4 separate regions of the Homo sapiens genome follow, and all the other regions are linked to region 3. Evidence: fine-mapped expression QTL. A gene starts in region 3. Each other region holds a variant in brackets. All regions are shown on one strand. Distances are between the middles of the regions.

The links. PIP is the estimated chance that this variant, and not a neighbour inherited with it, causes the effect.
Region 1: its variant is fine-mapped to the expression of DKK3 in whole blood (TOPMed, PIP above 0.99).
Region 2: its variant is fine-mapped to the expression of DKK3 in gastroesophageal junction (GTEx, PIP above 0.99).
Region 4: its variant is fine-mapped to the expression of DKK3 in cerebellar hemisphere (GTEx, PIP above 0.99).

What each region holds. Positions count from the first base shown.
Region 1 is chr11:11,983,224-11,991,326 of GRCh38, forward strand. The region is part of intron 3 of DKK3 (dickkopf Wnt signaling pathway inhibitor 3); the gene reads right to left. Among named protein-coding and RNA genes, the nearest start is that of DKK3, 21 kb to the right of the region's middle. The variant C/A (reference allele first, on the strand shown) is at 4,994.
Region 2 is chr11:12,042,784-12,050,886 of GRCh38, forward strand. All of the region lies in intron 1 of LINC02547 (long intergenic non-protein coding RNA 2547), which reads left to right. Among named protein-coding and RNA genes, the nearest start is that of LINC02547, 16 kb to the left of the region's middle. The variant C/T (reference allele first, on the strand shown) is at 4,174.
Region 3 is chr11:12,005,096-12,013,198 of GRCh38, forward strand. DKK3 (dickkopf Wnt signaling pathway inhibitor 3) reads right to left here and starts at 3,531. Exons shown (of 7, transcript NM_001018057.2): 1 at 3,275-3,531. The coding sequence starts at 3,487. RefSeq lists an enhancer at 1,783-2,718.
Region 4 is chr11:11,962,482-11,970,584 of GRCh38, forward strand. It overlaps DKK3 (dickkopf Wnt signaling pathway inhibitor 3), which reads right to left. Exons shown (of 7, transcript NM_001018057.2): 4 at 5,914-6,006; 5 at 4,473-4,617; 6 at 3,328-3,484; 7 at 555-2,205. The coding sequence ends at 1,983. Among named protein-coding and RNA genes, the nearest start is that of DKK3, 42 kb to the right of the region's middle. RefSeq lists a silencer at 4,492-4,541 and enhancers at 5,384-6,008, 6,009-6,632, 6,633-7,256, 7,257-7,880. The variant G/C (reference allele first, on the strand shown) is at 4,279.

The DNA.
Region 1 (8,103 bases), 22 kb before region 3:
TTTCCTTTGCCTTGGGAAGAAAGTAATAAATGTGCCAAGTCCCTCCACACTCTCAGCACTTGGAGATAGCACCTATGCAAGAGCTGGTTCCTCAGGAGACAGTGCTTCTGAGACACAGTCCCTAGGCACATGGACTTGAGAGAACTGGGAGGTGACAAAAACTGCATCATATTTTGTATTTTCTCTGTCCATCCCAAAGGCTTAGGGCTGGAGCCTTCGGTGGGGCAGGTGAAATCTCTCAAGAAGAACAAGGTTCCAGGGGCTGTGACCTGTAATCCCTCCTGACATATCACAAGTCTCCACTGGATGTCATGTCTGCATCCTCCAGCTATGCCATGGGTAAGACAGGCTGCAGAGGGAGAAGGGAGTCAGAGGATGCTTCACGCAGCAGTTCAGGCTGCCAAGCTGCAGCCACAGGACAGAGGCCTTCTCCACCGAAGATCAGCCTTGGCTGCAGTTGTGGGCAGCAGGAGTCAGTGCAGGCCCCTATCTGGGCTACGCTGCTGTCAAATGGTCCATCTGGGAGATGCCCCAGGATGAGCTGGGCACTCCTACATCTGAGACAGAGCCCAGGCCCAGCATTTTCCAGACCAACCCCCGACCCAATGCCTATACAACAATGCTGGTAATCAGAATCTTCTCAACCTTCAGTTTCTTCAAAATGGCTCTTCATAGTCTTTAGGATTCAAACCACCTGAATGGGGAAGCTGGCATGATTCGAGGAACCTCAAGGTTAAGTCTTATCTACAATGGTGGGGATGTCACTCCAATGAAGGCAACAGACAGATCCTTCTACAGCCTCCCTGCTGCCCACTAGGCCATGTCTGTCTCTGTGACGAGGAGTGACTAGGAGGTCCCAGTGTGGACACTGGCCTTTTTAAAATAAGGGGTCTTAACTTTTTTTGTACTAGGGACCCCTTTAACACCTAGATGAAGCCTGTTCTCCTGTTCTCAGTATAACAGAGTTAGATGAATAAAGGTAAACATACAGGATTACAAAGAAAAATGGTTGTGTTGAAGTCGAGTTATCAAAATATTTTGAGAGACAGTATTTTATGGGCTTCTTATGAACACACTGGATAGCAAGACCTATCGGCAACTCTGACAACTCTCTTCATCTCTAAGTGCTGAGCATAAATGCTATTTTAAGATATGTATAACAACAGTAAGAGAAAATAAAAATATTTGTGATTGCTATTGGTACGAAGTACTGCAAATATTGTGGTTTGTTGTCCACATTTCAGATTAAAGGAAGTGCTCAATTTAATTTAAAAGTAAGTGAAAATAAAAACGCATTACTTTTCCCATGAGTTGTATCCAGATTAAGAAAATAATTCTGCTGTATGCCCAAGCTGAACAACCACTGCTTCAGTGTCCCTAATCCATTGCCCTCTTTATAAATTCAATTCAAAGAATTTGCTCAATTTCCTTTAAAAAAAAAAAAAAAAAGAAAAAGTGAAGAAAATCTAAAGCAGAACAAAACAGAAACCAGTTTGTTTTCCCCTGGGCAGAAAAAAAGTCACTTCCCCAGCCCCCTGGCAGGGCTGCTGGGTGGGGGACGGCGCCTGGGATTCCCTGCTGAGCCTCTAAGGAGCGTCCAATCTCCTGCCTTCCAGTCTCTTCCCTGCCCTGAGGAATTATTCTTTCTTTTGCCCCCAACACTACCCACAAAGTTCTTCCACAGTGAGGACGGAAAGGGGTCTCCCAGAATTTTTTAACTTTTCAAGTTGAATCGTTTATGCTAATGAGCCTGGGAAAAACTTTAATGTTTCAGTGGTGGAAAAACATATGCTTTGACCTCATTTTGCTCACAAGAGGCCACGTCAAATTTTGCTTCACTTTTGTGGGATGGCAAGAAACGTGGAACTCCAGCTCCAAGGAGGAGGCCATGTGCAGATGGTCTAGGGAAGGTGGTCTGGGCACACCCAAGTTTCCTGCCCCAGAAACCCTGGAGCCGCCCATCCTCATAATGGTCTTGGTGCTTCCGGCTGGGGCTAGGAGATTCCTTTGTGCTCCAGCACCAAGGAGCCCGGCCACACCACCAGGGTTGCCCCGGCTCTCCAAGCCAAGACTCAGACAAAAGGCTCTAAAATGACCCGCTCCCCCGACAGTGAGCTCCCCAAGCTCTCTTCCTCAGTTCTTGCTGGGCAAGCCTGGGTAAGTCATTTAACTTCATTGGGTTGCAGTTTCCTCATCTGTAAAATGGGCATGATAAAACCTAACCAGTTATGTTGTCAGAAAGATTAAGGGTGATAAGTATGACCACATTTCATGGCATGTACCAGACATTCCATTACTATTAGTGACCTTCCCACCATCTGATCATTTTGCAAGGCAGTGTTCAGTGCACTAGAAGGAGTCTAGGCTTTGGAGTAAGACAGACTTATTTGGAAATAATTGTAAATCCCAACTCTGCCACTGACTAGCTGGGTGACCTTGGCAAGTCACTCTGAGCTTTTCACTCCTTATCTTTAACTCAGGGCTAGTACACTGTGTTGTAGGTGGGTTTGGTAAGAGTGAAGGAAAGTAGCTCATATGAAATGGTCACACAGCATCTGTGTATGTGCTTAATGAATATTTGTTCTCTTTCCTTCCTCTCACCTTCCAAATCCCAGCAAAACCATGGGGATGCGGGGAGAGGAGAGCAGCTCTGCACAAGGCAAGCACTGAGTATGACTTCTGGCCTTTGATTTGAACTTTCTGCTACAGGATGTATGTTCTTTCTGGGGAAGGAGGTCCCCATAGATTTAATCAAAAAGGGAGGACCCTGGAAACAATGGAAAAAGCAAAGGCTACTAGGAATCTCCTGCTCGTGGGGCTGAGCCTAAGTTCTGCTTGCCAGGCATGAGAAGGATGGAATCTGCTGGCCTCTGCCCACCCCAGCCACCCGGGTACCCCTGGCCTGGAGGGCAGGCCCCTCCGCCATCTTCAAGCCAGGGTGTTTTTCTATCCTAGCCACTACTCTTTTGTTCCTGCCTCCTTTCTGGGAGGCCCTGAATTATGAGACTATGGAAAATTCAGGCTGTTTTCCCTGTGGCTGTATTTTCCACATCGCATCACTGAAATGTGTCAATGGCCAACCTCTTCAGACACGGGAGCATGCCACCCACTTAAAATGCCCCTCTACTGGTTTAGAATGTTCCTTTTCAGCAGCAGCAAGTCTGACACCCCATCAGTGGTGAGAACAAAAGAAAGTAGGTGTGAGATTCCACAGTTTCCTAACCATCTTCCACTGATATCTTCTCCCCTGAGCCCAAGGAGCTCTGCCATCCCTGGGAGAGGAAAACCATACAGTTGTCCTTTTGTGATGTTGGTTTTCCATCTGAGGCCTTTGGAAGGGGGAGGGGCTCAATGACTCTTGATGTTAATGACACAAGCTGTAACCCGGGAATGGAAGGCTGGGGATCAAAACAACTCAACATTATGGCTGCAAACCACCATGACTTTATCAGAAATATATCTTTTAATTGAAATGGCCAAAATTTACAACTGGGTTCATATTCCAGTTCTACCATTTTACCGTCTGCCATGACTTGCGGAATTTAACTTCTTTAAACTCCAGTGCCCTCATCTATAAAATAATATTATATCTACTTCATAGTGTTTTAAGAATTAGAAAACACGTAAAACACTGGGTATACAGCCCAGCAAACAGTAGGTGTCCAACAATGTAGATGAATGAACAAAGGCAAGAAAAACAGAGGTTCATTTTTTAAACAAATCAGACTCATTTACATACTTACAGCTCTTTACAGAATCTTACCTTCAAGGAATTTTACTTCCGTTTCTATTCCCCAATTTGCAACTAGGTCACACAGCTTTCATCTACTAAGTATGTATTCAACTACTCAACCCCTATCCATGTCCAGCACAGACACAGGGATACGGAGGTGGCACACAACAGGTGAAATCCCTGCCTCCCCAGAGTTCAGTCTTCAGACAATCCTTTATGAACTTCTAAATTTTTTCCCTGGGCCTGAGAACACCCTTTCCCAGCTGGTCTTCACCATCTTTCTCAGCATTAGGTGGCCCATCCTCTCAATTATTAATTTTTTGAGATATGATAAAAACAAGGGCACCAAGACCCTGCTTCCTGAAAAAGGAAATTCCATGTCCACCATGCACTAAAAACTGAACTGAACTGGAAATAAGTTTCCAGATCTGATGGCTGCATGATTTGGAGAAAACTACATCCCTCCCATCTCTGATTTCTCATCTGTAAAACAGGAGGTTTGGTCTGAAGCAGGGGTGGAACACAGGTTTCAAGGATAGTCCTTTCCCAACTGTCAGTTGCTGCTTGGAAGTGCTGTGCTGCCTCAAGTGCTGAGGCTATCTGGGCTCATAAGGAAACAACTCTGCAATTGATTAGTAATGTCTGCCATGTGCCCGGAGGTGGGGTATGGCAGTGGATGGGCCACATGTGTTCCTTCCTGGTTCAGAGGAGTTCAGGGGACCCTGTGAATTCTACCATTTATAATTGTGTGACTCAGTGATATACTGTTTTACTTTATCTTTGGCATGAGGCCTGTCTTTACACAAATAGCTTTTTCATCTGTTTGGTCTAGCACCTTAGCCACCATCATCTTTCAGAAGCCTTCTCAGTTACTCTTTCAAAGCAACAGCAACCTTACAACAAAATAAACATATTTACTGATTCATCACACTCAAATTCAGTAAACTACTGCTTCCTGCCACAAGGGGTCCAGGAAATTAGGTCAGAAAGGAGAATTTACACTTATTCAGCATCTATTAAACACCATTCTCCAGACATGGCCTCCTACTTGTAAAATACCCTCCTCGGGCAGTCATTAAATCCTCTTTTCACAGAGCAGCAACCAATGCTCAGAGCCATGAGGGAAGTTTCCCCAGAAGCAGGGATTTCAACTTGCAGCAGTTTGGATTCCAAATTCTACCACTATGCTCCCCTAAAACGTACCCAAATATCTTGTTTATTCTTTCTCTTCCAGGAGGTGGAGGTGAAAAATGAAACTGA[C/A]AGTAGACAGAGCAATGAGATCTGAACAAACATTTAGATGACTCAATCTCCATCCATCATTTTTCCCATAGTCTGCTGGGGATGTGACCAAGAGTAGAGGTTTCCTGCCTGATTGGAGAGACCAGCTCATTTATTAGATTCGGGGGCATGACTGTGAATTCCCTGGGAGCATTAAACATGTCCTTCTGCATTCCCCGCTTCCCATCCTGACCCACTTCCCTTCCACTGCTCCGGGCTCTGACCCTGGAAGAGGAGACGGTGTGACTGGGGCCTCTGTTGGCACTGTCCCCTGGCCTACCTCCCGGGAAGCCCTCGCTACCACAGGTGGGAATTGATAAACAACCATCATCACCACAAAACCTCCTTGGAGGCCTGAGTCCCCCATAGGACCTCTTGGGAGTCTGGAGCCCCTTTACAGGGAAGTGGGAGGCCCCTCATGCCTCTGGGGAGTCTTTGAGGACACCATGGAGGGGTAAGGGTGGGGCTCATAAAGGAGGGTGTGGAGTGGGTGTTAATTCCTGAATGGTCAAGGAAATCACATCTCTGGATCCCCACAATCTCCACGATGCAGCCTGAGCCTGCATACGCCCAGGCCTAGGGAAAGTTTTCAGCATGTTGGCTACAGACCAGGGTGAGGGGTGAGAAACTCAGGTCAGTGGCATCAGTTAAGCTTTAAAAACACTCCCTGAGACTATGGCTGCCACACTGCAGAGGCAACCGCTGGAAACAGAGTTGGGGAACGCACTGCCTTATCCAAGGACAGCAGGGGCCAGGAATTTTGAGACAGTCCTTCAGCTTACATTGGGCACTTATGTCCTCTAGTGCCTACAGTCATGAAGACTGAAAGGTTGAAAAAAAAACTTCTACCTTGTGCCCTGCTGGTGGGAATGCAAAATGGCGCAGCCACTATGGAAAACAGTATGGTGTTTCCTCAGAACATTAAAAATAGAATGACCTTATGATCTAGCAATTCCACTTCTGGGTATATATCCAAAAGAAGTGAAAGCATTTGATATGAAAGAATATCAAAGAGATATTTGCATACCTGTGTTCATAGCAGCATTATTCACAATAGCCAAAAGGTGGAAGCAACCCAAGGGTGCATTGACAAATGAATGGAGAAACAAAACATGGTATGAATATATGAATATATCTATGTATATACACAAACCATGTATTATCATTCAGCCTTAAAAAGGAATGAGACTCTGATACCTGCTACAGCATGGATGAACCCTGAGGACATTACACTAAGAGAAATTCACCAGTCACAAAAATACAAATACAGTATGATTCCACTCATATGAGGTACCTTGAGTGGTCAGAATCATACAGACAGAAAGAAGAATGGAGGTTGCCAGGGGATTGCAGGAGGGGGGCATTGTTTAATGGGTATAGCATCTCTGATTTGCAAGATGAGAAGAATTCTGGAGAATTCTTTTCTCCAGTATAATTAACCCTGCTGAATTATATGTGTCAACATTGTTAAGATGATATTTTATATTATATACATTTTATCACAATTTTTTGTATGTTGCATTAAGAACATGAGTCTTGGAAGTTTTGGAATCCACAAGACCTAAGTGCTTCATTTTATTTCTCTTTTTTAGTACTGGCTCAGCCACCTACAAGTTCTGTTTTATAATTTTCTCTGAGCCTCAGTTACTTCATCTGTAAAATGGGGTCAACTGGGTGTCTGCCTTGTATCATTGTCATGTGGATCGTGTGAAGGAATGCAAGTCAGATGCCTGGCACAGCGCCTGACTAAATAAGGGAATACTGGGACATGTTGTAGCCCTTGATGTTATTTTAAAAACAAAACAAAATGGACTCAATGAGTTTTTTGGAATGATGCCAACAGGTAAAGAAGGACAGGGCCACAAATTTGGCAGCCAGGATACAAAGACCCTATGGTGAAAGTTATCCAGGCTTGTCTGGAAGAATCCCCAGGTCCTGAGAGCAGTGGACAGCCACACACCTGCATGGAGGAGCTGTTGGGCCCCTGACATGCCCAGGCTACTCAGAGACCACAGAAATCAGCTTGTTCTGCAGCCGACACCATCAACCTAATGAGAGTTCAAGTTCAATTACTGTCACTTATCTGTCCTGTCTACTGGCACCAAGCAAAAGCAAAGTGCTCCATTTCTAAGTAACGGTTTCCAGATTTCAAGGCCAGAAGCCAGGCTTTTTGCAGGGTACAGGCTTTGCAGCCCAAAGGGGCTCAAGCCTTCAGCTTCAGCAGGATTAAGCAAAGCTCCATCGCCACGAATGTCTGTCTTCCAAACCACATCTTCCTGGCTCTTTCCTCTAGGGATTGCATGAAGTCTCATTACAGTATACAGTACAGGACATGGTAAAGCACTGCAGATGCAGGATATGTTCCTAACTCAGCATGTATTCCTAACTCCTTGGCATGGCTCTCAAAGGCCTGCCTGATCTCATCCCTGCCTCTCCCCCAGCTTTACTTGCTGCTCCCCCACGCACATCTCCAGCTCTGGCATTCTAAATTGTTTAGCGTTCCTCCAACATATTCTTATTTCCACATGCCTCCTTGACTTTGAACAAGAAATACTTGTTCAACGAATACCCTTTTTCCCCACAACTGAGAATTCCTAGACAACATTCAAAATACAGCTCAACTGCCACCTCTTCCAGGGAGCCTGTCAAGAAGTGTGAAGGGTCTAAGATTCTATTCTACTTGCAAGATGATACATGTTCCTGCCACGGTTTCATGGCTGCTAGCAGAAGACATGAGACTTCTGGGTCAGAGACAAAGGACTTTATTTCAGCAACACGGAAACAGCATAAGCCTCTTGTCTGTATCAGTTCTCCTTGCCTGCAGGTTCCACACTGCCCCATGGAGGGGTCCAGACGGATGCTGCACATGCATTGGGTTTACATCACACCTAAGGGATCTCAAGCTCAGAGAACCCAAACCTTTGATAATGGACTGCAAGCAAACCTGCCCTCTGCCAAGGAGGGAGAGCTAGCTCTGTTTTTCAAGGCCACCGCCTAGAAAAGATGGCCTGGAACAAGAGATCAATTAGTGTCAGATATAGTTTGGATATTTGTCCTCTTTAAATCTCATGTTGAAATTTGATCTCTAGTGT
Region 2 (8,103 bases), 38 kb after region 3:
TTAATGCACAGAAATCCTTAGTAAGTGGGAAGAAACAAAAGATTTGAACAGTAAAAATGCTGCAGGAATCCAGCACTGTTTGAAGGTTGCCTTTCTCCGAAGGTTACTGTTCAGAAAGAGAGGAGAGAGAGACCAACGTATCTCCCTGTACCTTGAAAGCCATTCTCCTCCAAGACATCTGTCAAGAGTTTCTGTCCATGTGGGTTATGGAAATGGTGTTAACTCGTGCAGAATTTTAATTACCTGTCTCAGGGGCCAAATGTATTTATGTATGTATCCATGTCATGATTATTTATTCATTCAATGAATGTTCAGAATCCTACAATATACCAGCTGTAATGCCTCATCATGAAATGTAAAACTGAAGAAAGCGGGGTTCTATTCTCAACGAGGGAGCCTCTGCCCTCACTTTTCTTTTTCATCACTTGAGCACCAATACCGAGCAGCCTCGTCTGTTTTTTTTTGCTTGTTTGTTTCCCCCCTGACATAGCATAAACTTAACTCTAGACGATTGTGTAGGATTGCTGCTGGAGTCCTGGATGCTAGTCTTTTATTTTATTTTTTAGTGACACTCACTCACTTTGTGTCCTAAAGCAAGCCCAGTTCCGTCTCTGTGCCTTGGTCTCGCCTCAGACAAATGGGGTATCCATTTGCCCTGCCAAACTCTAAGGGGTATTGTGAGGGCCAGACAGGGCAACAGATGCTGAAAGCATTTGAAATGAACAGAGCTGTGTAGAAGTGTCAGGCAGTACTCTTCCTGTGCCCCGGGTCACCGTAACTTGAAGAGCATCTGGACATATGTCAGAGAAAATAAAAACTGTTTTTGTTTCTCAGTGAAAATACCTGCCTTTTGAGACTTTCATTTAAAATGAAAACATTCCAAAGTAGTATGTGATCTTGAACAAGTCATTTTCCTCTCTGAGTCTCAGTTTATTCTCCTATAAAATAAGCCAGTGAGACTAGATGGATACATTTCAAATTCTGCTCTAGAAAATTCTTCACTGGGAAGAGATTCTTTTATCCCCACATCTGCAACCAGAACCACCATATATTTTTCAAATTTTACCCTCATTTTACTTATTTGGCTTCTATGTGAGGTCTTTTTGGTTTTCTTTTTCTTTTAAAGTGAAAGTAAGTTTATTAACAAAGTAAGAAAATAAAAGAATGGCTACTCCATAGTCAGGGCAGTGGCTTCTGTTTTGTTTTGTTGTTTTTCCTAAATAAAAATCCTAAGGCTAAAACAAAAAAAGAAAACCAGAACACGGCTAGATCACCTGTAGGGCCATTCTTCCCGGCCTTCGTGTCTGCACACGGAAGACCCACGTGCTTTCTGCTTAACGTGTGTGCATTCCTCTTGTATGTGTCAGGCGTGCACGAGGCCTCTCAGGACAGAATTCCTTTGCAGGGGGATTGACAATGAGTCATAACCTGCTTGACTTTTAAGTGTGCACTCAGAGATGACCATTTTTTATAGCAGAATTCCCGAGTCTAAACAACCTTTGGCAGCTGAAGACTGAGAATGAAATTCACCAACCAGTCCAGGGAAAACCTCTTCCAAAAGCTGTAATATTTTTGTTGGATGCAGGTGTGACCCGTGGTCTTGCCGTGGGGGAAGGGAATGGCTGTGGGAACAGTGCCACCTTGTGGCCATTTTTATGAGCAGACACTACCCAGTGCTGAGCTGAGGGCTGGTTCCTGGATGGTTACACTCCTGAAGAGGGACTTTCATTTTGGGATTGGGAAGGGGCCCAGAGATACACTGAGACCAGAGCCAGTCCCCACCTGGCAGCAAGCTCAGCTGCCTGAGTCAGAAGCCCTTCTCCAAAGTTACCACACTCCTGAGGCCCAGGAAGGCTGCCAGGCTGGGCGTGTGGTTATTGGGAGGGTCATGTGGCTGTCACTAGCAGGAACGTGTCTGGATATGGGAGTGGGAGGCAGAGTCTGAGAGGAGACAGAACAAATTTCACAATGGCCATGGCTGAGCCCCAGTTGGGAAGACGGTGACCCAGGAAGTATGCAAAGTGGTGGCAGGAGGGTGGTGTCCTCTTGTCTAGAAACCCAGGAGGCCTACAAAGCAGAGAGGACTCTACCTGTCCCCTCACCCCTGACCGTAGCCTGGGGCCTAAATGAGCCCTCCTACTCTCCGCCTTGCTGCCACGCCACCATCCCTGGCACAGGGTTCCTGGGAGGACAAAACGAGATGGATGAGGCTTAACACAGCATCTGGTGCGTGGGAAGCCCTCAGACATCCCTGTGCCTGTCCCCTCCCTCTCCTACTCTGTGCACTAGACATTGGAGTGACAACAATGAACCCAGCACAGCTGCTGTCAGAACTCACAGGCTGGCTGGGCGTGATGGTGCACACCTGTAATCCCAGGACTTTGGGAGGCTGAGATGGGAGGATCGCTTCGGTCTGGGAGTTGGAGACTAGCTTAGGTAACATATGGAGATTCCGTTGTTACAAAAGATAAAAAACAATCAGCCAGGTGTGGTGGCACGCTCCTATAGGTTCAGCTACTCAGGAAGCTAAGGTAGTGATCACTTGAGCCCAGGAAGATGAGGCTGCAGTGAGCTGTGATCACACAACTGCACTCCAACCTGGGTGACGGAGTGAGACCCTGTCTCAAAAAAATAAAAAATAAGAAGGACAGGTGTGGTGGCTCATGCCTGTAATCCCAGCACTTTGGGAGGCTGAAGTGGGAAGATTATTTGGAGTCAGGAGTCCAAGACTAGCCTAGGCAACTTAACAAGACCCTGTCTCCACAAAAAAATATAAAAATTAGCCAGGCATGGTGGTGTGCCCTGTAGTCCCAGCTACTCAGGAGGCTGAGGTGGAGGATTGCTGGAGCCCAGGAGTTCAAGACTGCAGTGAGCCATGATTATGCCACTGCACTCCAGCCTAGGGGACAGAGTGAGACCCTGTCTCAAAAAAAAAAAAAAAAAAAAAGGTAAAAAGAAACACCATAAAAATAAATTTAATAATAATACATTTAATAAGATATATCCAATATCTTGTCATTTTAAAATGTAATTAAAATAAAATTCAGTAATTAAAATTCATCAACTTCCCTAAGAGCTGGAAAATTAATGAAATATTTTATATTCTTGTTTTCTATGCTGCTTGAAATTCTGTGTGTATTTTACACCCACAGCACATCTCAATTTGGACTCACCACATTTCAAGCCCTAAATAGCCACATGTGGCTAGTGGCTACTGCACGGCACAGCACAGGGCTGGTGCAAGGAAAGGCGCTCACACACATATACACAATACACACACATACACAAATACACACACACACACATATCCACACACATACAAACACACACATGCACATACACACACATGCACACACACACACAAACATATATACACACACACATATACACACCCAGAGGTCAGTAAGTTACTGGTCAGTAACTTTATAAGGGGCACAAAGTTGATGGGTGATATGGTTGGGCTCTCTGTCCCCACCCAAATCTCATCTAGAATTGTAATCCCCACGTGTGGAGGAAGGGACTTGGTAGGAGGTGATTGGATCATGGGGGCTGTTTTCCCCCTTGCCATTCTAGTGATAGTGAGTTCTCATGAGATCTAATGGTTTAAAAGCGTGTGGTAGATTCCCTTGCTCTCTGTCCTGCCACCATGTGAAGAAGGTCCTTGCTTCCTCTTCGCCTTCCGCCATGATTGTTAGTGTCATGAGGCTTCCCAGTCATGCTTCCTGTTAAGCCTGTGGAACTGTGAGTCAGTTAAACCTCTTTTCTTTATAAATTACCCCGTCTCAGGCAGTTCTTTACAGCAGTGTGAAAATGGAGTAATACAGTGGGGGAGGCTAACTTGGACTGGGAAGGTAAGAAAAGTCCTCTTGGAGGAGGTGGTGTTTAAACCTGGCTGGCTGGCTGCATGAGACTTGAAAGTGAAGCGATGGGGAAAGGCTGGAGGGTGGGAGAGGGGTTGGCCTGTCCATGCACCATCCAGGCACCTTCTGATAGAATGAGAGTGAGTGAACTATAGCTCTCAAGCCAAACTCTGCCTGCCACCTGTGTCTGTATGCCCTAAGAGCTAAGAATGGTTTTCACATTTTCTTTTAGACAGGGTCTTGTTCCAGTGCCCAGGTGGGAGTGTAGTGGCATGATCTCGGTTCACTGCAGCCTTGATCTCTGGGGCTCATT[C/T]GATCCTCCTACCTCAGCCTCCTCACCTCAGCAGCCTCACCACCTCCCTCATCTCCACTCAACCTCTCCACTCCAGCCACGCTGACCGCTTTAATGCCCTGGTGATCACCCTCCCCTTCTCCTCCAGGGCTTTCCCTGGCTGCCCCCTCCACTGCAAAGTCCTTTCCTATCTCCTCTCTCCCTGTGGCCAACTCCTCCACTTCAGAGACCAGCCTTGACTTCACATCCTCTCCTGCTTCCCAGTTACCTCCAAAAGGGCCTCTGCCAAGCCATCCTCTCTGGTTTCTCTCTGAAAATCCAGGGTTGGCACAGTGTGAAGAGTGCACAGGGGCCTAGAGGCCTGGGCTCTGGAATGCTCCCGTTTCCAGACTCAGCTGCCTCCCCTGCCTCTTCCCCAGGGCTGCCAGTAAAGTGCCTTTTCCCTGCAGGAAAAAGAGCTGCCCCAGTTGGGCCTGGAAAAAGGGCAGGCATTCCCTCACTTGGCTGGCCAGGGGGGCTGGAAGTCTTTGACAGCCCTGCGGTCAGTCCCAGGGCCAAGTCCTTGTCCCCTCCTGGCAAATTTATGCGCACCTGAACTCTGCAGGATGCCCAGGAGGGGGCGCCAAAGTGCTGCCAAAAAAGAACAGTTTGGGGCATATGAATCAGATGGCCTCGTGGGAGTGCTTAGTGAGGGCTGGCTCTGAGTTCTTTTTACCCCAGCCCCTGCCCAGGGCCAGGCACTGTGTGTGGAATGGAGGAAAGGACACCATGCAAGAACTGACAAGGTCCTGCACATCTCCTATGCTGGCATTTCTTACGATCACAATGACTTTGGTGTTCCAGGCCCAGAGGCTGGGAGCTGGCAGGAAGCTTGACCATTGTGAAGAGCTAGTGTGCCTAAAGTGGCCTACAGATTTGTTGAGGGAGGCTAGGTGGGGTCAGGAAGGCAGGACCCCTTGAGCCAGTTGCCTCTGGCAGCAAACAGTCTCATTATTGCGTAATTAGTATTTTCTATGTTGACTTGACATGGACGTGGTTGGGAAGCACTATCCAATATGGAAGCCACTAGCTACATGTGACCACAGTACTTACGTTTTAATTAAGATTAAATAAGCAGGCTGGGGGGTGGTAGCTCATACCTATAATCCCAGCACTTTGGGAGGCTGAGGTGGGCAGATCTCTTGACCCCAGGAGTCTGAGACCAGGCTGGGCAACTTGTTGAAACCTGTCTCTACCAAAATACTTAGCCGGGCATGGTGGTGCATACCTATAGTCCTAGCTACTTGGGAGGCTGAGGTGGGAGAATCACCTGAGCCCAGGAAGTTGAGGCTACGATGAGCCAAGATCACGCCACTGCACTCCAGCCTGGGTGACAGAGCAAGACCCTGTCTCAAATAAATAAACAAATTAAGATAAAATAAAATTTAAAATCCAGTTCTTTACTTCATTAGCCACATTTCAAGTACTCGATGGCCACATGTGGCCAGTGGCTCTCATGTCAGCACAGAAATAAACATTTCCATCATTGAAAGTTCTGTTGGACAGTGCCACCCTAGAACTTGCTCTGATCTCTTGTGGGTAGGGTGTGCTTTAGAATTTCAGAGAGTTCACTGTTAGCATGCTGCCTCCCATGGATATGGTTGTTACAAGGTTATGAGAAAGGCAGTCAGACCCACCTAGGATTAACCCCTGATTTTGCTGGTTACAAGCAAAGTGTCCTCTATGCAAGGGCTCTGCAGGGCTGACACGGGACTTGAGCATCCGCAGACTTTGGTATTCAAGGGGATCAGGCAACCAAACCCCCACAGTTAGCAAGAGACAACTGGACTACTTTTGTGGCTTCAGAGAAGTCACTTAATCTCTTTCAATCTCTGTTTTCTCATCTCTAAACTGGGGATAATATCACCCTGCCGCCACAGTTATTATTAGATGAGCTAAGACAGATAAATCACAAAACGCAGTGCCTAGGACACAGTTTTGCGGCCTTACCGCCCCAGCCGAGTGTGCCTTTCTGCGTGCACTCACCCACAAGCCCTCATCCCCTGGCTATACTGTGTCCAGACCTGTGTCGGGTTCCACATCTCGTTCAAAGGCAGCACCGGGCTTGATTCTTGCACCGGGCTTGATTCTTGCCTAGAAGGAGATTGCAATCTAGGTCAGAAGGCAAGATAAGGCCCATGAAGCAACCTGAAAACAATTCTTAGGCAACACACAGGGCAGTGTGTCATCCCGTGAGCCAGAGTCTGATGGGAAAGTAGTGTGGGGTGGGAGGCTCTTCTAAGTCCTCGTAGAGAAAGTGGGTGAGATTAGAACTGGTCTTGAAACAGCGTAGAGTTTGGACCGGCAGAGCCAATGAGAGAGAAGTGGCAGCAGGGAATGGTGTGAGGGCAGAGGAACAGCGTGAGCAAAGAAATGCTCAGAGGTGGGTAAGGGAGGGGCCAGAGCTAACACAGTATGGGGCAGCTTGGCCGAGGTGCTCAGGAAGGGGACACACTTCCTGAGAAGAGAATTTGCTAAGAAGATACTCAGATCTTGGAAGCCAGGCTGAGTTGCTTAAGTTTAATGAGACAGGTGGTCATCAGGCAGGCGGGGCCTTGAGCATGGAAACTGGCAAGGCCTGGGGAGGATTGCACTGACAGCAGAAGTCGGAGGTCTGTGAGGGAGATCCTGCAGTCAGGGTGACGTCAGCGAGAAGTGACACCAGCGGCCTTCCGGGGCAGTGCATGGTACCATTTACAGAGCGCTGTTAACATAGCCTGGGCTCAAATTGCTGGGTCCTAACACAGTAACCAAAAACTGGACTCCATTGGTCTACACAACAAGTCAACATCAAATTGGGAAGGAGCAGTGGGTAGGCACCAAGAAGAAACAGAGCAGAGGAAATGCCTGTCACAGTGTGTCAAGATCTGAGCCCCAGCCCCTTAATCAGTTAAGAAAAAGAACAGGGGCCGGGTGCGGTGGCTCGCGCCTATAATCCCAGCACTTTGAGAGGCCAAGGCGGGCAGATCACGATGTCAGGAGTTCAAGACCAGCCTGGCCAACACAGTGAAACCCTGTCTGTACTAAAAATACAAAAAATTAGCTGGGCCTGTAATCCCAGCTACTTGGGAGGCTGAGGGAGGAGAATCACTTGAACCTGGGAGGCGGAGGTTGCAGTGAGCCAAGATCGCGTCACTGCACTCCAGCCTGGGTGACAGTGCGAGACTCTGTGTCAAAAAAAAAAAAAAAGAAAAAAGAAAAAGAACAGGTACAAGGAGGAGAAGAAGGGGGTGTCTAGAAAGAGGACTGGGTGTCTGAGAAACAGGGCTGGGTGTCACATCACACACATACACAGGCACACACAGTCACATTCACATGCCTGTACACATAAACACATATAAGGACACACATATAAGCCCCCCAACTTACTCTTCATGCTAATCATACCCAGAGACCCTTAAGGATACATGCAAATGCATATGTACGGGCACACATCAATACGTATGTGTATATACACGTGTTCTTCCTCAGCCCAGCCTCTCCTTTTAGGCCTGGAGCTGGGGCTGACATTGGGTTTACATCAATCAAAGCCACTAGGAAACGTCTATCCTGCCTGGGCCCAGAGTCCATTTCTGACAGAGGCTTCTCCAGGCTTTACTTGTAAACGCTATTTATTTTGGAAAGCAACTTCTCTGTTTTCAAATAAAACGTTGGGACATGCAGTATTGGATTTCCCTGATCTGACATTGACCTAGAAAAATGTGCTGGCAGGAACAGAAAATGCGATGCCCCACTGTGCTGGCAGGCACAAGAGTTTCCCTCCTCTTGGCTTTGATTGCAAAGGTTAAGATGCAAGTGAGAGAGCGCAGTTCCCCCTCCCTGCCTGAGCAGCACTCTCCCTGCAGAGCTGGAGGGAACTGGGGGCCATGTTTAGGGGCTTCCTGCAGGTTTTGGTGCTTGTGGTCTTAGGGG
Region 3 (8,103 bases):
TAGTGTTTTTAAAATTCCCATCGGGATCAGTTTGGCTTTCAAATAATTGACAAGTTGCCAAACCTAGAATTTGCTCTGGGCTGAGCAGATAGTCTTTTTATAAAACTTTTCCCCCCAGCTCAGCCACTGGTTATTTCAACAGAATGAGCTAACGGTTCTTAAATGGCACCATGAACTAAAAGTATAGTTTACAATGGAAATTTCAACCGCAACTATTATTGCCACTAGCAAGAGAAACTTAAGTCTGAAGCAAAAGGAGCTGTTTCGTAGAGGAGGAATGTGAATGCTATTAAAAATGGCACTTATACTAGAAATAGGTGAGGCAGTAAGAACATTCTAAAATGAGTGAGTTACAGAGCTGGCCATGAGGGGAAGAGAAACAGAGTGGTTATATCTTCAGAATACATTGATTGGTAGCATATAGAATAGTAACACAGGAAAGTAGGAATATCCCAGATTGAAGCCATTTGAAGATATGCTTCTTCCAATAATGACCGTACAAGTAGAGCTGCTTTGTCCTTCCCCTTAAGAAACTTCAACAGCTTGATTCAGCTGGAACATTGAAAATGCCAGGAAGTTACTTGAAAGGAGATTCATGATGCAACTATGTAAACAAATAATGCATCTGGCCCAGGTCCTTTTTGATTTTTCCCCTGAACAATGACTAAATACCAATTATCCTGTGTCTATGAGATTTAAGGGGCATTCTGGCAGTCTCCATAAAAAGTTAATACTAATAACCACAGTCTATAAACAATCTATTGTATTCTATTTTTGAAGATATCTAAAAGATACTTTTAGTATTTTAAGATTAATTTTTAATGGTTTAAGATATTTTAAAAGATAGATTCTATTGAGAATCTATCAGACACTGGTGGTGTTTTGTTATCATTCATACTGCTACTAGTAATATGATGATAATGATACCTGTTACTTATTTACAACCAACCATCATGTCATCCTTACAGCCACCTCACAATGAAGCTACCTGTATTACACGTGTTTTACTTAACCCCATTTTAGGCAGTCAGCGGATGGCCTGCCCTAGAACCACAGGCATCACAAGCTCAATTTAATGTGAAGCTGCAGAATTAAGAGACATTGGGGCCTATATGACTCCCTTCACCCTTTAATTGTTCCATGTCATGATAGTTTCACAATCACAGGAAACAAAGATCATGGATCTTGGGCTCTTGACCTGACCAGTGGATATTCAGGGATAGCTGCCCAACTCACTGATTTGCTTTACTTGCAGCATCTCATTTAATTCTCACCTTACCCTAAGAGGTGGACATTTCTCCACTTCAGACTCGGAACGCCACTGCCAGTAAGTGGCAGAGCAGGGACTGGATGAGGGAAGATCAGTCCCCACTGCCTCTTCTCCTGCCATGGTGTTCAACCTCTCTCATCCTGTACCCACTGCCAGCGAGGACACCTCTGGGAAAGAGTGGGGTAGAAGTGACAGCCCACATCTCCTCTGGTGGCAAACTTCAACCCCCCAACCTACACAGAGCCACATCTAGAGGGAGGAAAGCTGGGGTCTTGGCAAAATCCAGTCTGGATAACGCCCATGGAGAAGACCCCGTCACTAGGTCCTGCAGGGCCCCACACTGCTCTGCTCAAGAAGAGACTGAAGAGGCCCTTGCTGCTCTCTCTCCTCCCTCAGCAGAAGCTAACGTCAGAGGACCACGCTGCAGACTTTCTGAACAGTGGTGGGCACAAAAACATAGAGGTGACTTAGTCAGTCTTACCGGGAATCTGTGTGCAGGAGGGAAAGTCCTAGAACCTGGATAAGGAAAGCAGATGGCCTGCCCTAGAACCAGAGGCATCGCAAACTCCACTTAATTTGAAGCTTCAGAGTTAAGAGACATTGGGGCCTATCTGAATCCCTTCACCCTTTAATTGCTCCATGTCATGATTGTTTTGCAATCACAGGAAACAGAAAGATCATGGGTCTTGGGATCTGGGCCTGTCCAGTGGATATTCAAGGACAGCTGCCCATTTCACTGCCTCCCAAGCCAGTGTCCCCTTCACTGCAAACTCCACAGGCTAACTGTTGTGGAGTGGGAGGGGAAATAGCCCCAAACTACAAAGGGCTGCGGGGAGAAAGCAACTTCCCCCTGGAGACAAGGGCCAGCAGTTAAGGCTTTGCCCAAGGGGGATACCAAGCTGGAGACAGCAGGGATGTGAAGCCAGACCAGGGGCCAACCAGCCTGGACATTGGTTTCCTGCTGCCTCCTTCACTAGGACGGCTGGCTCCTCTCTATAGACACAGGCTACAGACAGATTGGGCCCAACAGCGCCCTCGTCTACCCACCCCAGGCACCAGGGACAGCTCCCCGCACCTGGACAGAGAGGGCTGGGCCAGTGACATCTCCTGCCCAGGTAGCCCTGGGCATGCGTGGGTGACCATCACAGAGGACAGAACAAGATGCCACCCACAGTGTTTAGACCTGGAGGTGATGGAGGGCAGAAGCTAGGCAAAGCTTTGCTAAGGTACGTGGTATCTGATAATAGTTGCTAAATACTGCGCACCTATTATTTGCCAGGTGCCCACACATATGACATTTAGTTTTCACAGGAAACTGAGGTGCAGGATATTAAGTGATTTGCCCAATGTCACCCTGCTACTGAGTGGCAGAGGAGGACCTGAGCCCAGGACAACTGCGAAGCACCGTTGGGTGGAGGGGGTATTGCCTCTCACATCCTCATCCGCCACTCATACAGTGCTGAGATTTAGGATTTCCATCTTCCCTCTCTGCCCCCACATTGCGTGAGAAGCAAGACAGCCCAGACAGACTGCCAGCAAAGCTCAGGGCTCTTTGCCTCTTTGTCCCTGCATGGCATCCTAACAAGCTCAAAGCATAACGGACAAGCTAGAACTTGGCGATGCCTGGAGCTTGTCCCGGGTTTCTGTGAAACCACAGTGCTGGAATACCAGGGGCCCTGCAAACCTCTGCTGACAATAGGGAAGGCCAACGGCATGCCTGACGCCAACTGCAGGCAGGTGGTGGCCCCAGCTACCTAGGGAGGGTCCAGTGCAGAGCCTCTCGGTGGACAGGCTCAGATCCAGACTTTTTGGCAAGGAGGCAAAACGAGGCGGGAGTAGGGATCACCGTGCGCTGCCTCCAGGTCACTCCGCATCTGCTGTCGGCCCTTCCCAGGCCCTGCGCGGGACCCGAGGTCCCTGGCCAGCGCTCTTCCATGCCTTCCCAGACTTCGCTGCCCCCAGTCTGGCGCTTCTCAGAGCCCCGCGCCGCCAGGGCGCACCCACCTCTTCCACCGCGCTGCGCAATTTGTGCTGCGTGTCCTCCATCAGTTCCTCAACCTCGCGGAACATCTCATTGAGGGTGGCCTCCTCCTGCGGGTAGCTGAGAGCCGGGCCGGGCTTGACTGGAGCCGAGGTCGCCGTCGGAGCGGGCGCGGGGGCCGTGGGGACCGCCGCCGCCAGCAGCAGGCACAGCAGGGTGGCCCCAAGCCGCTGCATCTCCGCTCTGCGCCCGCAGCCGCCGCCTGTGTGTCCCGGAACGCGATCAGAGGCGCGCGGACCACCCCCCTCGCTGGGCCCGCCGCCCCGCCCCGTTCCGCCCCGCCGCCCGCCCCTGGCGCCCCTCTTTCCCGCACCCGCCCGGAGACGGGAGGAAACCGAGGCCCCTGAAAACGCAGCTCCCCTACACCCGAAAAGACGCGACCCCACCCGCTCCAGCCCGAGCCCCGATCGCCCCAGGACCCCGCACCCCCATCCTCGAGCACAAGCTGAGCTCTGCTCCTCACCTGTGATGCTGGAGCCCTCGCCAGAGCAACCGAACCCGGATCCTCTACGCTAATAGCTCCCAAGCCCCAGCTCACCTAGACTCTGTCCCCGGTTCAAACCCTAGCCCCTCCTCGACCAGGTCAGAGTGCCCGACCCCCACTTCCACCTCAAGCCTCTCTCAGCCCCTACCTGGGGTGGACCAAGCACAGGTCAGCCCCCTCCCCTTGGCGTCGGGTCCTACTCGAGCGCCCCGCCCCACATCCACCAAGAGAGGCTGAGCTCAGCAGAGTCGTCCCCTCCCCCGCCGCCGCCCCTCACCCACCCCGACTGGACCGAGTTGCGCTGCGGGCCGGACTGGATCTGCTCGCTCCCGCCGGGAGGCCGCCGGGCTGCGGGTGCAGATGCGGGAGCGGCGCGGTGGGCGGGCCGCGGGTGCGGGAGCGCGGCGGGGTGCGGCAGCGCCGGTACCCGAGGGAGCCCGCAAGACGCGCCCCGCCCGCCCACCAGGCTCCCTCTCCGCCCCCGCCCCGAGCCCCGCCCGCCCACCAGGCCCACCCCGCCCCGCGGAGGGGCCGCAGCCCGGCCATTGGCCAGCCGGGGCGCCGGCCACCTCACGCCCCACGCCCCACGCCCTCCTCTTCTGCCTCAGCGACCAGCTCTACCGAAGGCAGCCATCTCCTTCACTGCCTGCCCCTGCGCCCGCGGCATCCCAGGCCCGTCTTCTCTGGCCTCCAGGCTTGCAACAGCCCACCGAGGTTGGGGGTAGGGGGAATGTTCCTCAGTCCCACCTTGGTCTTTCCAAGCCAACCTCTGTCCTGTGAAATCCTCAGGAAAAATCCCAGCCCCCAGCCTGGCATTCAAGCCATCACCGCTGGCCTTAGTCTGCCGTGATTGACACCGTGCTCCAGCCAGGATAACGCACTTGCAGCTCCTGGAATGGGAGAACGTCATGAGAAAGTCAGCAAGCTCCTCAAGGGTGGCATAGAGGAGTGGTCAGGACCAGACACCTGCAGCCAGCTCTGCTCCTTCCTAACTTCCCGCCCTGGCGAAGTTACCAGATTTGTATGCGTCCCAGTTAGCCCTAATATAAAACTTTGACAAGTCTCAAAAACGTAATAAGGAGTGGGTAGTGGAGAATCAGAGAAGTTAGACGATCAGGCCAAACAGCAGGTGAAGGCAGGGATGGCCAGAGGTCCTGAGTGTAGCTGACTGCTCTCCAGCTTGAAACCCCAAGACTGCCTTTCTCTGCAGCACTCCCCACATTACTGTTTACCGCCAAAACAGCCGCTTTCCCTTCTACTTCTGGGCCTGGGGCAGGGCCCTCCTGAACTGCAAGGAAAGCCCCATTCCCCGGCATCTCCTGCTCTGTCCCCTGGGCATCTGGAAGCCCTGGTTGAGCATTCATTAGCTTTCTGGGGGTGGCTGAGCCCGTCCAGGAACCTGGAGCTGAGTCTCCACATGCCCCCGCTTGTCACTTCGGGCAGAGTGGACATTAGGAAGAAACTAATGCCGAACTGGAGGGTGCTGTGGGGGCATATTGTGGGGCCGAGCTAGGAAATGCAGTGCTGCGGGTTTACAGAGCACATCATGCTCTTCCAGTCCTTCATGTTGCTGGCTTAAAGACCAGGAATTTCCCCAGCTGAGATTGTCTTCTGCCTTACACCTTCTACCATGCGGTCTGGAGGTCTTGACTTTCAGAGTCAACCTAAAAATCTCTCTATATCGAACTGCCCCAAGTGTCAGGCAAAGGGACGCTTGTTTTCTTGTGTGGAGTCTACATTTTGTATTCCCAAATGTAATAATTTATCAGTAGTTCAATTATTAGGTTAAACTACAAACGAAAAAAAGAAAGGAAAGAAAAGAAGGAAAGAAAGAGAGAAAGAGAAAGAGAGAAAGAAAGAAAAGAAAGAAAGAAAGAAAGAAAGAAAGAAAGAAAGAAAGAAAGAAAGAAAGAAAGAAAGAAAGAAAGGGAGAGAGAAGAAACGGTAAGAAAATCTACAGGTCTCAAATATAAGTGGTCTTCCTGCCCAGCTCCATGCCAGTCCGCGCACCAGCCTGAGACATTCATGGGCTCGAAGGAAAAGCCCTGGGGCCAGCTGTAGAGATGAGCCCAAACCAGATCTGGACAAGGAGTGTCAGCTCCAAAGAACTCAGACTGGGGAGCCCAGTGGGGTCGGGGACTTGTTGGAGAAAGGGCCAGTCTGGATGGCCATTGTGAGGTGAGGGGCACAGAGCAGGCAGAGAGTGCAGAGCCATCCAGGACAATCATAGGTAGAGTAGAGAACATTCTACATTTCCACAATTCCCATTGTGTCACTGGCTAAGCTCTGTATCCACTGGGAACAGTTGATTTTTTCTTTTAAGTCATTGGAAACACATTCTGGAATTATTATTTAAAATTTTAGGTTCTCACATTTTCTCTATGAGGGAGCTCCCAAGTCATAAACTGGGGACCCATTTCATGGTTGAGGAAATGGCAGCAAAGCGGATATAACTGGCTGAAAATTGCCTAGAAAGTGGCCACACAGCAATTTCACAATTAGCTGTCCACCCTCCAGAAACTCATGACCATGTGCAAAAGAAGACATGTATAAAGATGTTTACTGAGGCAGTATCTATAATGGCAAAAAATGTGGAAACTACTTGCTGGTGTTTTCCAGCAGGAGAATGGATAGACCGGGGCTTCTACAATAATAGAATACTGTACAGCAGGTAGAATAATGAACAATATTTATAGGCAGCAACATCACCAACTCTCAAAAATATAATATGAGGTGGAAAAGGCAATTTGCGAAAAGACATATATGGGATACGATTTGTGCATATCTTAGAAAAACAGAACAATAGCATTCATTGTTTATGGATTCTCACATATAATAAAAATATAGAAATGTGCAGGCTGCCTCTGAGGTGGGAGGCAAGGAAGGGATGGAGGATGTCTTCAGTTGTATTGATAACATTTTATTTCTTCAAGAAAGGGAGTGTACCAGCATGGAGGAATTCTGAAACAGAAGTGTCCAAATATTCGCATCTGTTTAATCAACCATGATGATTACTTACATCAGGATATATGGGTGTGGCTGGTTCTTTTTATTATTTTTGGTATATTTAAAATATTTTGTGAATAAATTGGTAAATAAAAGCAGAAGGCACCATCCCATCCTCCAAACAAAACAAAACAAAAACAACTCAAAAAAACCTCTTGTAGTCAAGTAGACTTTTTTCTTATATCTGTTCTTGGCAAAATGCTGACCTCCCCAAGGCCCAGCAGTGGCCCCCTTTACTGTGAGGTGAGGAGGGGTATCCACACCAGGCTGGAGTAGAGGTATCACATTATCTGACTTCAAACAATACTACAAGCCTATGGTAACCAAAACAGCATGGTACTGGTACAAAAATAAACACATAGATCAATGGAATGAATAAAGAACCCATAAATGAAGACACACACCTATAGCCAACTGATTTTCAACAAAGTCAACAAAAATTAACAATGGGGAAAGGATTCTGGGAAAACTGGCTAGGCATATGCAGAAGAATAACAATAGATCCCCTACATCTTACCATATATAAAAATTAACTCAAGATGGATTAAGACTTAAATGTAAGCTTTGAAACTATAAAAATACTAGAAGAAAACCTAAGAGAAACTGTTCTGGACATTGGTCTAGGCAAAGAATTTATGACTACGACTTCAAAACCAAATGCAACAATAACAAAAATAGACAAATGGGACTTAATTAAACTAAAAAGCTTCTGCACAGCAAAAGAAACAATCAACAGGGTATATAGACAACCTGTTGTCTATATACAGAATGAGAGAAAATATTTCCAAACTGCATCTGACAAATGACTAATATCCAGAATCTATAAGGAACTTGAACAAATAAAAAAAACTCCAAATAACCCCATTAAAAAGTGGGCAAAAGACATGAATAGACACTTCTCAAAAGAAGACATACAAGTGGCCAACAAATATATGAAAATATGCTCAGTATCACTAAATTCATCAGAAAAATGCAAATTAAATCCACAATGAAATAGTATCTCATACCAGTCAGAATGGCTATTATTAAAAAGTCAAAAAATAACATGTTGGCAAGGATGTGAAGAAAAGGGAACACTTATACAGTATCGGTGGGAATGTGTATTAGTTTGATATGGTTTGGCTGTGTCCCCACCCAAATCTCATCTTGAATTGTAGCTCCCATAATCCCCATGTGCCATGAGAGGGACCCAGTGGGAGCTAATTGAATCATTAGGGCAGGTCTTTCCCATGTTGTTCTCATGGTAGTGAATAAGTCTCACAAGATCTGATGTTTTTATAAGGTGATTTTTCCTTCCTTTGC
Region 4 (8,103 bases), 43 kb before region 3:
GCTCTCAGTAGATATCTGTTGAGTAACCAGAATGTAGGGTGGTCCTGATGGTTTCTGACATTGAATAGAAAACAGCTCCCTATTTGATCTTAAAATAATCACTATAACCTGGACATACTGTACTAGATGCTGTTTTTGTCTGACTTCTACTCTGTCAATCTCTTTGCACCTCCATTTGTTCATCTGTGAAATGAAGAAAATGCTCATGGAGTTCAGTGAAGATTAAATGAATGAATATAGGTAGACTGCCTAATCTGGCACTTGCCACGCAGCTGACTTCAATATAGTAGCTCTAATATTATGGTCCTTGAGGATCTTACTGTCTTATGGCCCAGAACTGCATTTGATTAAAGAAGGCTCCCCTAAAAAAAGAGTCATACATATTCCATTTGTCCTTTCAGAAGGCCGTGAAGCATTTACACTCTTTAAGACAAATTCCCATCCAAAAATAGTTAAGATTTCTAAAATATTTTGATGCTGAAAGAGGTGTGCTTCAGTTGGGTGGCAAATTTGCTTCTATGGAAGATTTTTAATACAGGTTGTTTCTATTTTACTTTTTCTGGCTGAAAGGATTTTACATTTATTCAAAGTCAAAAGGGAAAAGAAATCCAAGAACTACAGAAGAGCAGTTGAAGTGATTTATGCTTGATTTCTAAATGCAACTTATGTTTATACATAATTTAAAACTCAAAGAAAGCATGCTTATACAATCATGTGCAACTTTAAACTTTAAGAACTCTGGATGAATACATGGTGGCAACAGTCCATGACACCTGAAAACATCATTTGTGGAGTGGCGTAGAGTTCAGTGTTCGCAGTCGCATATTACAACCATGTTTCACACAGCCCTGCTCGGTTTGATTTTCTCCACGTGGTTGATAATTGTCTTCAGTTGCTGCTAAGTGATTTTGCAAATTTCATTTATAATCCTCGCCCTACAATTACCTAAGTACTGTTTCTGCAGGTTAACCTGTATGCTACGCTCAGTCATATACCTTTCAAAGTTACTAATGCAACTGCCAAAGAGGGACAGTGTCAATATCATTGTCTTCATTAGAAGGACGGCTGCCCCACACTGTGAGAACACTGCTGTTCCTAACAGTAGTTTACTTTTAGAGGGATGTGAGAATTAGTTTGACCTTAATTCCAGATGTGCATGCCTCAAAAGAAAAATCCCATTCTCCTTCCTTTTGGGGAGCACTTTTGGTGGCACCAAGGCTGGTGTGGGGTAGTGGAGAGAGCACTGAGCTTAGAGTCACAACCAGATGAAACTGCTCTGGTCTTCACTAGCTGTGTGACTTGGGCAAGCAGCTTGCAGTCTCTGAGCCTCTGAGATCCCTGATGGACGAGGAGAACAATGACCCCCTCCCCAGGCTGTGCTGAGAGAGGGAATTGATCTTGGATATGAAAATGCTGCCCTGGCACAGAGGTAGGAGCTGAGCAACACTGCTGGATGAATAAACACATGTAATGCAGGGTGAACAGAACATTTCATCTGCAACAGCTGAAGGCACAGCTTACCTATGCCCATGGAAAGAACTGCGTGGAAAATTCATTTGTTGCATTTTTGCCAGGTTGATGTTTGCAAAGCAGGGCACTCTTCTCCACATTTCCCCAAAACCAATCAGAGGGAGACTCCACATTGTTTCCATCTCCTCCCCTCAAACAATTATCAAAGCCATGTAGAACAAACGGCTGTCTGCCAACTGGTAGAGGCAAAGCAGCCAATAATCTGGACAGGGGTGGCAAACTGCTCCTGCAGTTTAACCCTGCCTGACTCTCCCAAGCACCAGACTGTGAAGCCTGGAGAACAGCCTGGGGGAGCTGAACAAATGCACAACACCTCATGCTGTCAAGCCAGAGGGGAAACTTACTGGGAAGAAGATGTAGGAAGAAGCCTGGTCAGCCCACGCCTAAAGCACACACCTGGGGAAATAAATTAGCTATTTCTATTGCACATCTACCCACAGCCTGGTCCAGATCTAAATCTCTTCCCCTCCCAGCAGTGCAGCGGCGGCAGCCGCAGGCTCCCTCAGCGCCATCTCTTCAGTCAGGCTCCTCTCCAGGTCCTCCAGCTCCTGGCGCACCTCCTCCATGAAGCTGCCAACTTCATACTCATCGGGGACCTCTCTGGGCAGCAGGATCTCCCCATCTTGGTCACGGCTCCCCACGAAGGTCGGCTTGCACACATACACCAGGCTGTGGCTGGGGAGAGATGGGACAAAGCCAGGCTCTAAACGTGGGAGCCTGCCCAGGCCGAAAGCTAAGGCGCCCTGACTCTGTGGGGCTCCCAGCCTCACCTTCATGCCCCCTCCTCTCCTGTCTCTTCAACAGAGACACTTCACTTCCCGTCAACATCTATCTTAAAATGATGGCTGAGGGAGGCTCACTTTGGGAGAATGTGCTGGTGGGGGGCAGCTTCCCCTCCTCCAGCGCAGGCCTGACCTCCTGTGACTCTCAGGCCCCGCAGCCCAGGGGCAGGACCTGAGTGCTATGTAGCAGCACCACAGCCCCTCAAAGACTGTGGCCCATTCGGGCCTCCAGGCAGGAGTCAGCCTGACTCTGGGGTGTAGTCTAGCCACATGCAGGGAGCCATGGACCTCTGTGGGAATAGGGAGGAAGAATTCCTTTTTTTAAAAAAAATTAATGTGTTTGGTAGAGACGGGATCTCCCTATGTTGCCCAGGCTGGTCTTGAACTCTTGGCCTCAAGCAATCCTCCTGCATTGGCCTCCCAAAGCTCTGGGATTACAGGTGTGAGCCACTGCACAGAGCCGTGGGGAATGGGAGTTCTGCCTGTCTGCCCAGCAGCCCTGGATTCTGTTGGGAGAGAAGACTGAGTAGAGGCTGCGGGGAGGACAGGGAGATGTGCCCTGAGAAGCTGGCCAGGCTTGAGCCTCATGCCTCATGGAGTCTCAGCAGCCTCAGACAGTGTGGGCTGCACCCTCCACCTTGGTGGCCACTCCTGGCCTCCCCGTGGCCTCTCTGCCAGCTCCTTTTTCTCTGCTTATCTGTCATTGTGACAGGTCTGGGGAGGGAGCCCAGGCTTTTCTCCCTCCATGTCCTCTCCATGGACCATCCACTCATGAAGCTTCAGCCACCAGCTAGATGAGCCCCAGATCTGTGCCTCCTGGGCAGCCTGGGCTCCAGACCCCTAGAACCGACTGCTGATTGGACCCTTCCATCTGCATGACCCAACGACCTCTCAAACCAATCCTAAAGGGAATCTACACCTCCCCCAGGGAAAACCTGCTCCTGCTCCTACGCCCCTGCTGGATGGCACCTCCTCAGCCCTTGGCTCCCTGAGAGTGAGGGTTAGGGGGCCTCACCTGTGGGGCTGGCAGAGGAGGCCACTGGCACAAGGGCATCGGTCCAAGGCTCCATCAGGCTCTAGCTCCCAGGTGATGAGGTCCAGAAGCCGGCTGGCGGGGTCATGGCAAAGCTCGCCCTCCACGGGCAGGGGTGTGCACACAGGGAACAGCAGGCCTGGAACCAGCCCAGAGTCACCCCTGTGTGCCCCGTGTAGGGTAGAAGGGCTCCAAAGGGAGGGGCAAAGAAATGGAGCATAACCTCCCACCTCCCACCCTCAACCCCAAAGTGCAGGCTAGTTTTGAAGATACGGAATGACAGGAAACAAGAATAGCAGCCTGGGCTCAGGAGGGAATGATTGGTAGGGCTGAAGCAGGGAGGACTGCCTGGAAGAGGTGGGCTTCTGCTGGATTTTGAGGGCCAGAAAGTCTGGAGAAATTAAGAGGGAGGCAAAGGCATTCAGGCACAGGGACAGCACCAGCAAAGGCCTGGGGTTGAGCTCAGTGGAAAATGTCAGGGCCGGTGAAATTCCCAAATAGGCCAAGAAGTAGTGGAGAGAAAAGGAGGGCAAGTAAGTTGGAGCTGCATGAGGCCTCACAAGACAGCCTAAGGAGTCTGAACATCGTGGGAGACAACAGGAGCTGCTGCAGGTCCCAGGGGAGCAACACCCAAAAAGCAGCCCTTTAGGAAGATCACGGAGGCGGCAGGTACAGGGAGGACTAGTGGGCTGGGGATGCAGAGCTGGGGAGGCGGCAAATGAGAATTTTTCAAAACCCTAGTGGGGGCGGAGAGAGCCTGAGCAGACCTCACCTGGGAGAGGCAGGACGGAAGATGGGAGTGGAAGCGGGTGATTCACAGGTAGAGGAACCTGGGAAATAAGGAGTGGTGGGAGGGAGGGGGCTGCTAGTCCCACCCCATTCCAGACTGGGCTTTTGCATCCTGAAGTCATTTAACTTTTCTGAGCATCAACA[G/C]GGGAAAAAAAAGAGGTGGTCTTCCCACTCCGGGCAGAGGCTGTGGGAGTGCAGCACACACTGATGAGCATTTGGGAGCCTATCCAAGAGGTGGGACGCGAAACCATGTGGTTGGCATGGACGTGGCTCCAGGAGGTCCAGTGTGGTGGAGCTTGGGACAGGGTTTTTCCTGCATCTGAGGGGAGGCCACTCACCTCTCTGGAAGGCACAGCACAGCCCCGGCTGGCAGTCCCTCTGGTTGTCACAGATGGTCCCATTGCTGCCCCTGGTGGCCATTTTGGTGCAGTGACCCCAGACACACAGCTGGTCTCCACAGCACTCACTGTCCCGGGTGCAGAGCTGCAGACAGGTGGAAAGAGCCTAGAGCCAGCGGCTTAGGGACTGGGGGCCTGCTGAGAGCCCAGCCTGAAGATACCACAGATAGGCCAACCTGCATCCTCCCATTGTAGAGACAGGCAGACCAGGCTGAGATTTCAGTGAAAGTCAGTGGGACAGAGGTGGGAGCTTGGCTGGCGAGACATGGGGGTCAGAACGCTGGAAAAATGGCACCGGGAGGACTCATGGATCTGAGTCTTTCTCCACAGCTTAAGATTTTGCAAAGAACAGCAGGGGGTCTTTGTGGTCCCCACAGACTTGTGCTGTTCCCTTTTTCCTTAGGTCCCTAGGTCCAGGCCCAAAGAGGCAAGGCCCAATGATGAGCCGATTAAACTAAGGCCCAAGCCAGCCCAAGATGAGGATGGCCTGTGGGTGCCAGGGTCCTGCAGCCACACAGGGCATGGCAGTTAGAGAGCAAAGTGAGGTCCCCACGGCTGTGCCCAGTGACGGTACCGAGTGGGGTTGGCTGCGAGGTGCAACAGCAGTGGCCTCACCACAGACAGTCGGGTAAGGTAATAAGAACTGCTTGACTTTCCAAGCTTATTAGCATGCTGTGTTATTGTCTGAATAAGGAAAAATGACTATGAAAAGTCTGTGAGTCCATGTGGCTTCGTCCAAAATGCCTGTTGGGTGAAGAGTCTCCTTTGCCCTGGCTCCACATTTCCCAATCTAACCTGCACTGGGGCAGTGCCCTGGCCTCTTCTTGCCCTGTCCCTCTGCCCTCTCTTATTGGCAGATTGGAGAAAGATCTGGTGGGTGGGGTGCAGGTCCAGAAGGAGAGCAGCTGCCGCTCTCCCTGCCTGGGGGCTGCCGGAATGTCTCTGTTTGTCTATTAGGATGGGTCATCCCCAGGGGAAGCAACAGGTGTAGGGACACCTCCTCTCCCTTCCCTCCCCTTCTCGAACTCCCGGCCTCAATAGATCCTTCTGCCTTGGTCTCCCCAAAGTGCTGGGATTACAGGTGTAGCCACGGTGCCTGGCCGTCCCTCCCCTTCTCTACCATCAATGACACAAACAACATGACCAGAGGACATGGGGTGGATGGGAGTGGCCCTGGGTCTGCAGATGGCTTCCTGTCATCCCAAACTGGAATGAGTTCCTTGTCCTCCAGGAGTCAGCCCTCTGGGGAGCCCTCTTGGGTCCTCCCCATCATGGTGAGGCTCTTCTGGGAAGCCCAGCTGAGAACGCTGGGGCCCCTGGCTTTCTCCCCCAGGTGCCTGAGACCCTGGTGCCACAGCCCCAGAGGCCCTGGCATACTCACCATCCTCTGGCCCCGGCATGGCTGGCAGGTGTACTGGAAGCTGGCAAACTGGCAGTACATGCTGGGCCCACAGTCCTCGTCGATGATGCACTCCTGGGGAAGGGCACAGGGAGCAGATGTGTCAATGGAGAGCAGAGCAGCAGGCCCACAGTGCCCAGGAAGGGCCAGGCCCGCTTCCATTCCCCATTCTTGACCCCACAGGCTCAGCAGGGTCAGGAAAGGCCTCCAGACTCTAGTCGCTCCTGATCCCTGCCTGGCTGCACTGCCCTTCAGCATCTCCATGCCTAGGAGGCTTGGCAGCCCAGAGCCTGGAGGATCCCACACCAAATTCACACAATCGCCATCTGTGCACAGTTCTCCCCCACCCACACCCAGGGCGGGAGCACAGGGACTCAGGGCTGGTCTTCCACACAGAACATATGGATTTAATAAAAAGTGCTAATGAGGTCCAGGCCCGCCCGACTGCACAGGAAAGGCTGGAAGACAGGCCCCAAGGGCTCTGCTGACTGTGAAGACTGGGAGGCAGCAGAGGGGGCATCGCTAGGGACCCTGCCAGAAAGCCACAGCCCTGCCCACAGAGAGCGCCCTCAGGGTCCTGGGTCTAGGGTCCCTGCAAGAGGGAAAGGCAGCTGCCAGCTTGGAAATGAATTAGAGGAGGGTGGCTGGACTCCAGCCCTCCCAGCCCAGGTGCTGTCTCCTCATGGCTGCCAGCTCTGCCTGGCTGGAGAAACAGGGAGAGAAGGAGTGAGGGGAATCTGTCCACCCCAAGGCCTGAGTCACAGAACAGGGAGCCATGGCCGAGGGCACTGTGACCTGCCATGGTCGCCGGTCACTGGCAGAAGCAGGGCTGCTTCAGCTCCTGGACCTGCTGTCAGGCTCAGGCCTACGAACCGGCAGCTTTACAGCAGGGGAAGGAGGGCAGGGGAGGAGGGAACATGATGACAGGAATGGCCATTGATCGCCCTTTTGAGGTATCAGGCTTGACGGCCCTGATCTTGTTCAGTGACTCCTCCCAGCAGGAGGCAGGTAGGGACTGCCTTCTCTATATTGCCAGCCGGGAAATGGAGGCAGAGAGGTCCCTCCAAGATAATGTGACTAGTTCAGGGTGGAGGGTCTCTTTCCACCACCAGCCCTTGAGCCAAGGGGGTTCAGGGCTCCACATGTAGCAGCCAGTGGTGAGAAGGACCCTCCTGAGGCCTGGTATTCTGGGGCCCAGCAGACCTTCTGGAAGGGTCTTGAGGAAGGGAAGGACCGGCTCTCCCCTCTGACCCAGAGCATCCTCCCCATCCTGAATGCAGGTGTGGAGCCCCACCTGGAAGAGCCTGGCCGGGCAGGCCTGGACCTCCGGCAGCTGCCTCCAGTCCCCTTCCAGGGGCTCTGCTGCTCTGATCAACACTGCAAGTGCTGGCGGCCCAGCAACCAGGGTGCTCCCTTGCCAAGCATTGATGCTTTTGTTTCAGTTACTTTCCCAGCACCCCTTAAATGTCAGGCATGATACCATCGCTGTTTTTACGGATAAGAAAACCGAGGCTCCGAGTAGGGTGAACGGCCGCCCAAGTGAAGGGACTGAGTCTGAGCCAGAGCCCCAGCGGCCAGAGAAGTCCCAACAGGGCTGGGAACAAATCACAGACGCGCTTTGTCTCAGCCCAGCACACGCTCTTGTGCACAGACACAACTCAGGCTGCTCAGCCGGAAGCCTCCCGACGTTCTTTCCAAAGCAGAATGGCAAGAAAATGGAGTGGGAGGGACGACATTTGGGAGAAAGGAAGGGCCAACAGGCACAGAATCCCTTCTCTGAACCAGCCATATTTTGAGGGACTGGGGACACAAAGGTGAATGTGAGGAGGCCTCTGCCCTTAAGAAATTCGTAATTCAATTGGAAAAAGAGAGAGAGAAAGAGCAACCCAGTGGCAAAGGAGACAAAGGGTATGAACGGACAACTTAGAATAACAGAAATTTGCCTCTTCAAATAGAAAGGCGTTCAACCTCACCAATGAAATCAATCAAGAAATGCAACTTAAAAGAGCATAACACCATTTTTTTCACTTAGAATGGAAGAAATTAGAAAGGTTGAATGTCTCCATGGTGGGTGGAATAACAGCACCCCCAAAGATGTTCACATCCTATTCCCCGGAACCTGTGGGTATGTTATATTACATAGGAAGGGGAAATTAGAGGCAGAGGGAATGC